Linked DNA regions of Homo sapiens. The protein of the gene in region 1 purifies or fractionates together with the protein of each later gene. This does not show direct contact. Each region holds a gene or a part of one and is shown on either strand. Other genes may lie near its edges.

Region 1 (4,156 bases):
GACATCCATTTTTCAGCTTCCTCTAGTTTTTGAACTTGCAAACAAAGGAGAACTTCTTCTCACAAGATTCATCCTTCCATTTCTTGAATCCTATGGTACAATGAGAAGTGTCAGACATAGAGGATCAGAAGGAGTGTAGCCCCTCCTCAACCTAGGACTCAGAACAAAAAACTAGAGGAAATACTTCTTTATTTTCCAGATAAGGAGCTTACCTTTCCTCTATCCCAGTCCCCATGTTCATCCCCAGAGATAAGTGGGAAGGAAATGGCAACAGGTGGATAGATTGTCTGCCTCTCACCTGAGCATGAAGTCAGGCTTGCACAGTAGCCAGCATTAGCACTGCTCGGGGATCCAGTGTCCCAGGACTTGTAGGAGACCAGGGACCCACTACTCCAGTGCCAGCGGCGGTTCTAGATGGAGAAGGGCCAGAACAGGGGCCATGGTCACTCAAAAATCAATAGAATAACCAGGCCTGTGTGCACACTCAGAAACAGGCCAAGTTATAGCAGAAAGAATAAACATTGTTGTCACCATGAATATCATATCATTTCCTCTGCTTTTGCTCTAAGCTTCTCCTTCTCTAGAATGTCCGAATTCCTCCTCCTCTTCCAGCAAATAATAAGTGTTCAGAATTTGATACAGAGACCCATAAAAGCCCATTAAAGAGAGTGGTTTCTGATTTTTTTCCTGAATCTCAGAACTCTCATATCCAGCATAACATTGGCTGTAGAGTAGTCGTTGATATATTATTTAGTTTATAGTGTTAAACTAAATAATATACTGTACAGTTTTATACACTTGTATAAAATGTATAACAAATGCCAGCAGTAGATTCTCCTCCACTACTCATTTTCTATATAGTCTACAGAGGGACCTCTTCCAAGACAGACAATAGCAAAATAGGGAAAAAGTTGTACATAAAGATGCATTTCTAGAAGTAGACACAATGAGTGGGTGCATGAATTCCCAGAGCCCAGAAAATTCAGCCTTCAGCTCATGTCTCTAACTACCTACACTGAACTTCACAACTCATACATTATAGGATCTATAAAGAGGTTGCTTTTATTTAAACAAACAAAAAGATAAAAGTTGGTGATTGCGGTGCCAGACCTTAAACGTCCCTCTTACCTCTCAAAAATGTTTATAAGGAGATAGAGGTGGCTGCAGACTGACCTTTTTTGGGTCATGGAGGCCAATCCAGACATTGCTGTCATCAGTGCTACTCTCCTTAATCAGTGAGGCCACGAAGGCACCCTCCGCCTGGGTGAGCACAGACACCAGGTTGCCTGAATTCATGTTCTGGCAATAGAGCTGTTGGAGAAGAAAATGGAGCACTCAGTGGAGAAGGAAGGTGTGAGGGATATACTGAGACCTTCCAGAGGATGTAACAGAAAAAGGACAGCACAGAAATGTCCCTGATGATGCTGTCACTGACCACCAGCATCTCTGTGCTGGGAATGTGTCAAATGATGGGATAAAGTAGATTGGGAAGTTTGGGACCAGTGGTGGAATAGGGAAGGGATCAATCTTATCTCATTGCAGCCACAGAACACACTGCAAATTAGCAGCTGCCTCTACCTTCATAAGCCTCCCTTCCCCTGCTGCTCTCCTCACTCACATCTGCATCAACCCAGGTCTCAGGGTCTTCATTAAAGTAGTAGCAGTAGGAGCGATAGGCATTGGTGCCTTCTGGGCAGCTGATTCGGGGATTAGGCAGCTCTGTCTGGGACTCCTGGCCTGGGGAAAAAAAAAAGGAGATAATTAAGAAAGAATCGCAGGGCAAGGAAAAGGCTGGAAGGTGAATTAGGGGCTTCTTGGTGTCCTTTATAAGAACATATGGATACAGTGAATACTGGGGCGATTGCTCACTTCTGCCCTCCTGCATCCTATCTCTTTTCTCTCTAGTTTCCTCTGCTCAAGACAAGAGCTCACAATGAATAGGCTAAATAAATGAGTCCTCGTTTTCCTTTAATTCTGAGGCTGAGGCTTCTGCCTTTAAAGACCCAGGCTTCCTCCTTTCTCAAGTTTCTCTCGGTTTCCCTGCACACGTTTGCCTTAGCTCTCCATCCTAGCAATGACTACATAAAAACATCCCCCAAACTGCCATCGCATATAGATTCAATCAGATAAACTCAACCACAATGGTCACCTATAAGTGGTCCTATTAAATTCTGTCTCAAACCCATGAATGAGGTGAGGGTGTTTTTGAATGGGATAAAATCAGCCATAATGATCACTGAACAACATAAAAAAACCCTGATGTTGACTCTGCTTTTTTTCAAGTGAACCTTATACATGAGGATGGAGGGAAGAATTCAGAGTTGGGGTTGTGGGAAGTGTGGGGGAAAATCTCACCTTGGCTCAGAGACAGGAACATCAGGGAGGAGATCAGCATGAAGAACGAGTTGGTCTGAGCCATGCTTAGCGGCAGTGAATCTCTTGCTTAAGGAGCAAATCAGCAATCTCTGTAGGAGAACACAGGGAAGAGGGTTTGAAGAAGAGAGCAGAGCACCTGTTATCTTTCTAACATCCTCTCCTCTCTGAATTCCTGTGAGCCGAAAGGTCCACTGAGATAGCTACACTCCCAGATATTTCTCTTTTGGTTTGGGGATAACAGAGGCCAAATTACCCGAAATCAGCTTTGGTCTTGCTTAAGTTTCATTACTACTGGGATCTTTTATTCAGAAAATCACCCTGTATCTACCTCAAAATGAAAAGAGAAAATCCCACGTTAGACATGCTCTTCTCCTGTAATGCCCCTTTACCTGTTGGTAAGTGCCTTGTCCACTTGAGGTGGCTTGTCAGGTCAGACAGAGTAGGAGCTTTATATCAGGGTCTGAGAGAGAACTACATGATATAAACAATGGGTGGAGCAAGGAGTAAGGATCAGAAGGCCTACAGAGGGCACTGACAGTAAGAGATTCTGGCATCAGGAATAGCTTATTCCTGGCACACATTAGGAGTGGTCACAAATGACATCAACTTACCACAAACAGGTTGGCAAACTGTCCAAGTTGATGTTGAGCTTTGCTCTTCCTCTGCAGCATCCAGGTGTCCAGTTCCCATGGCCTTTAGCAGTCCTAGAAAGAGCAGAAGAGTAGATTTCTTTGTGCTAGGTAAATGTGGGATGATCCTTTCTTTGGTTTAGGCATGGGTAGGGGTAGGGGAAGAGTCAACTGAGTCCAAATGATTAAGCCCAATTAGCTGGTGGCTTTAAGTCATTTCTCCATTCCCTTTCAGGTTCAGGAACCTCTCAAGACCTACTTCAGAAGGCAAGGTGTATTAGTCCTTTTCATACTGCTATAAAGATAATACCAGAGACTGGGTAACTTAAAAAGGAAAGAGGTTTAATTGACTCATAGTTTAATTGACTCACAGACTTTCCTGAGGATGGGGAGGCCTCAGGAAACTTACAATCATGGAGACGAAGGGGAAGCAAAGCATGTCTTACATGGTGGCAGGTGAGCAAGAGAGAGTGGAGAGGGAAGAGCCCTTTATAAAACCATCAGATCTTGTGAGAATGCACTCACTATCAAGAGAACAGCATGGGGGAAACTACTCCCGTGATCCAATCACCTCCCACTAGGTTCCTCAATCCACACATGGGGATTATGAGGATTACAATTTGAGATGAGATTTGGGTGGGGACACAGAGCCACACCACATCACAAGGTTTAGTAGTTACGTAAATTTAAGCCAGCGTTTCCAGCAAGGTTTCAGCATAAGTAGCTAGCATGATACAGATGTTCTCAAAGTCCAAGCAGGTGGGAACTGCAGGGAGCTGATGCCTAAGTAAGCTCAAAGTAATGGAATATGAAGTTGTTGGTTTGAAGTCAATTGTCTGTTGTTGTGAAGTTACAGATAGTGATGTGAAATTAAAAGCTTACTGAAATTCCCATTAAATACCCATTCAGAATCAGGGAACAAGAGCAAATCTGGAATTTAAAATTCAGTTGAAAAACTAACCAAAATGTTCACAGAAATAAGGATGGCTATATCAATTGGGATAAATGACAAAATAATATATTTTGAAATACTAACAGGAGTTAAATTAAATAAACTAAATATATTTATATAAACATGAGCTCATTTCAAAAGCATATATAAACAAAATGAATTTTAAAAGTTGCAAAAATTTACAAACTAATAATATTTA
Region 2 (3,500 bases), on another chromosome or scaffold:
TGAGCCAAGATCGTGCCATTGCACTCCAGCCTGGGTGACAAGAGCCAAACTCCATCTCAAAAAAAAAAAAAAAAAAAAAAAGGAGAAAAAGAAAAATTATCTTAGCATAAAGATGGAAATAAATCTCACGGAAAGGCACCAAACTATTAACAAGAGTTATTTTTGGAATGGTAGGATAAGTGGAAATTAGCACACCACATATTTTGGCACTAACATGATTTTTAGAATGAACTTGTGTATTTTATACTTTAAAAAATATGAAAAAATGTCTTACTTTGAAAGGAATACTTTATTGAGACAGAAAAAGAGAATTCAATTGGCTTATAATGAAATCCTTTCACTACACTATATTAAAAAGTGCTGTTATAATTCAGGAAAGAAGACAACTTACTGTTCACCTTCAGCAGGAGGACTCCAGGCCTCTTCAATCAGTCGAAAGACAGAATCGAAATAAGTCAGATAGAACTGCCAGTCATCTGAGCTAAAATCAGATTGAATGATGCACACAGGATTAAACCCAAGTTGTGACAGATCTTCCTTAGGAACCATGATATTCAATTTATTTTGTAAGTTATATTTTAGTATGTAGTAGGTTGGCTTACCCCCACCCACTCCATGTTTCCTTTGCAAATCTAAAAGGGCATTTTCAAAGTAATACTACTTTGTATTTGTAAAGAGTAGTAAACTACTCTTTCCTTCAATAAAATGACCAGGTCTAGAAAACTAATATTCATAACAGAAAAGTCCCCACATAAGCACTTCCAAAATAGAGGGAAGGGGAGAGAAGTGTTGTAGCAAAGAATGAAGCCTCTCTCTTTTAGGGGAATACTGAATTTGAGAAATTAATGATTTTCAGTGTTCATTCTTAAGCCCTAACTAGAATTCAGCACCATGGTGGCACAAGTATCTTTTTTTTTTTTTTGAGATGGAGTCTCATTGTTGTCACCCAGGCTGGAGTGCAGTGGCATGATCTCAGCTCACTGCAACCTCTGCCTCCCAGGTTCAAGCGATTCTTGTGCCTCAGCTTCCCGAGGGGCTGGGACTACAGGCACGCACCACCACAACTAGCTAATTTTTGTATTTTCAGTAAAGACAGGGTTTCGCCATGTTGGCCAGGCTGGTCTCAAACTCCTGACCTCAAGTGATCTGCCCACCTTGGCCTCTCAAAGTGCTGGGATCATAGGCATGAGCCACCATGCCCAGCCTACAAGTACCATTATAATACTCTACTGAAAGATGAAGGCTCCTTAAAAACTTTTAGAAACATGCAGGACACAACTACTATAAGAAGACTTTATGCCCAGAAACTTCAAAACACAGACACCAAGAAAATCAATAGTGAGGTCTTAAAGCCTCACTACAGTCAAATGGTACAAAAGAAAGCTTTTACTCACTTTTTTAGTAAGAGGCGCCGGGAAAGGGCATTGCACTCTGGCCACCTGCTCAGCTTCTTGTACATAGCCATGCATTTATTTTCCCGACTCTGAATCTCACTTGTCAACTTCTCTAAAATCAAAAGTTATAAAAGTTGGTAAGCTGGTTTCATTTCTGCTCAATAACCAGAATAGAGTCCAACCACAAGAAGGAAAATGTCACATTTTCTTTTCTTTTTTTTTGAGATGGAGTTTCACTCTTGTCACCCAGGCTGGAGTGCAATGGCACGATCTTGGCTCACTGCAACCTCCACCTCCTGGATTCAAGCGATTCTCCTGTCTCAGCCTCCCAAGTAGCTGGGATTACAGGCATCTGCCACCACGCCTGGCTAATTTTTGTATTTTTAGTAGAGACAGGATTTCACCATGTTGGCCAGGCTGGTCTTAAACTCCTGACCTCAGGTGATCCACCCATCCCAGCCTCCCAGAGTGCTGGGATTACAGCTGTGAGCTACCGGGCCCGGCCTAAATGTCACATTTTCTTATTCACTCTCTTAGAAAATGGGACCACTATTACATACAAACTACTACTATCTTATTAAAGATTATTTTACTTCAAAGAAAAAAGTACATTACTGACAGTAAATTTTTATAATCATTTTCTTTGTAAAAGGATAGGTTTCACAATGTATTGGGTTGAACATCTATTAATAGTACATGGGATATACTTATAAAATCCCAACAGCATCTAGGGACTAGTAAATTTAGTCCATAGACAAGCTGCCCATCCATACAGTTCCAAAACATCAAAGAGGACTGAGCTGACATGAGCTAAGAAAGATGAGATGTTGGAAGAAGACAAAAAAGAGTGGAGAGGAATCAAATCTTTCCAAACAACTGAAAACAAAAAAACTAGGATGATAGTTCTGACCAAATTAGATTTGCCCAACTGTTTAGCAGATTAAGGATACCAAAAATTACATTATGAATTTCCTGTTGAGAATCTAACTTTTTACTATCCATAGAGCTATAATGTAGTTTAAAAAAAAAAAAGGGCCAGGCCTGACAGGTCACACCTGTAGTAATCCCAGCACTTTGGGAGGCTGAAGCAGGCAGATCGCTTGAGACCAGGAGTTCGAGACCAGCCTGGGCAACATATTGAGACCCCACCTCTACAAAAAATATAAAAATTAGCCAGGTTTGATGGCATACGCCTGGAGTCCTAACTATTTAGGAGGCTGTGGTGAGAGGATAACTTAAACCCAGGAGATCAAGGCTGCAGTGAGCTGTGATGATGCCACTGCATTCTAGCCTGGCTAACAGAGCAAGGCCCTGTCTCAAAAACAACAACAACAACAAAAAAAAACAAGAAGTTTCTTGTGAGTAGCCTAAATATCCATCAAAAACTGGTTAAGTAAATTTCTACATTCACACTGTGGAACACTGGACAGTTATTAAAGGAGTGAGGTAGTGAACTTTATCTCTAGGAAATACTATTTAGTTAAAATAATAATAATAATAATAAAATAATGGAGGCCAGGCGTGGTGGCTCACACCTGTAATCCCAGCACTTTGGGAGGCAGAGGCAGGCAGATCACTTGAGGTTAGGAGTTTGAAACCAGCCTGGCCAACATGTTGAAACCCCGTCTCTACTAAAAATACAAAAATTAGCTGGGCGTGGTGGTGTGTGCCTGTAGTCCCAGCTACTCACGAGGCTGAGGCAGGAGAATCACTTGAACCCAGGAGGCAGAGGTTGCAGTGAGCCGAGATCGCACCACTGCACTCTAGCCTGGCCACAGAGTGAGACTCTGTCTCCAAAAAAAAAAAGAAAGAAAGAAATAATGGAGCCCAGTGTGGTGGTGTGTGCCCGTCGTCCTAGCTACTTGGGAGGCTGAGATGGGAGAATCACTTGAGCCCAGGAGTTCAAGTCCAGCCTGGGCAAAACAGTGAGACCTCATCTCTTTAAAATAAATAAATAAATAATAAAAATAAAGTATGGGTATAAGAGTATGCACAGCAGAGGTCACAAACTCAAATGCCTTCATAAGACAGACATACAAATAAAGAAGGAATGTTTGCGGTATCTACAGAGTACAAATCCTGACTAGAGGGGCATTAATTAATTTA

The links.
Region 2: the proteins of REG1B (region 1) and NAA25 purify together in Homo sapiens (affinity purification with mass spectrometry; one large-scale study listed by BioGRID and IntAct). This does not show direct contact.

Annotation. Positions count from the first base shown.
Region 1 is NC_000002.12:79,085,194-79,089,349, forward strand, and holds the start of REG1B (lithostathine-1-beta precursor), read right to left. Parts: upstream 2,801-4,156; 5' UTR 2,766-2,800; intron 2,466-2,765; 5' UTR 2,420-2,465; coding exon 2,356-2,419; intron 1,738-2,355; coding exon 1,619-1,737; intron 1,312-1,618; coding exon 1,174-1,311; intron 411-1,173; coding exon 299-410; intron 91-298; coding exon 23-90; 3' UTR 1-22. UniProt on the Homo sapiens protein: Might act as an inhibitor of spontaneous calcium carbonate precipitation. May be associated with neuronal sprouting in brain, and with brain and pancreas regeneration.
Region 2 is NC_000012.12:112,074,284-112,077,783, forward strand, and holds part of NAA25 (N-alpha-acetyltransferase 25, NatB auxiliary subunit), read right to left. Parts: intron 1,507-3,500; coding exon 1,395-1,506; intron 482-1,394; coding exon 392-481; intron 1-391. UniProt on the Homo sapiens protein: Non-catalytic subunit of the NatB complex which catalyzes acetylation of the N-terminal methionine residues of peptides beginning with Met-Asp, Met-Glu, Met-Asn and Met-Gln. May play a role in normal cell-cycle progression.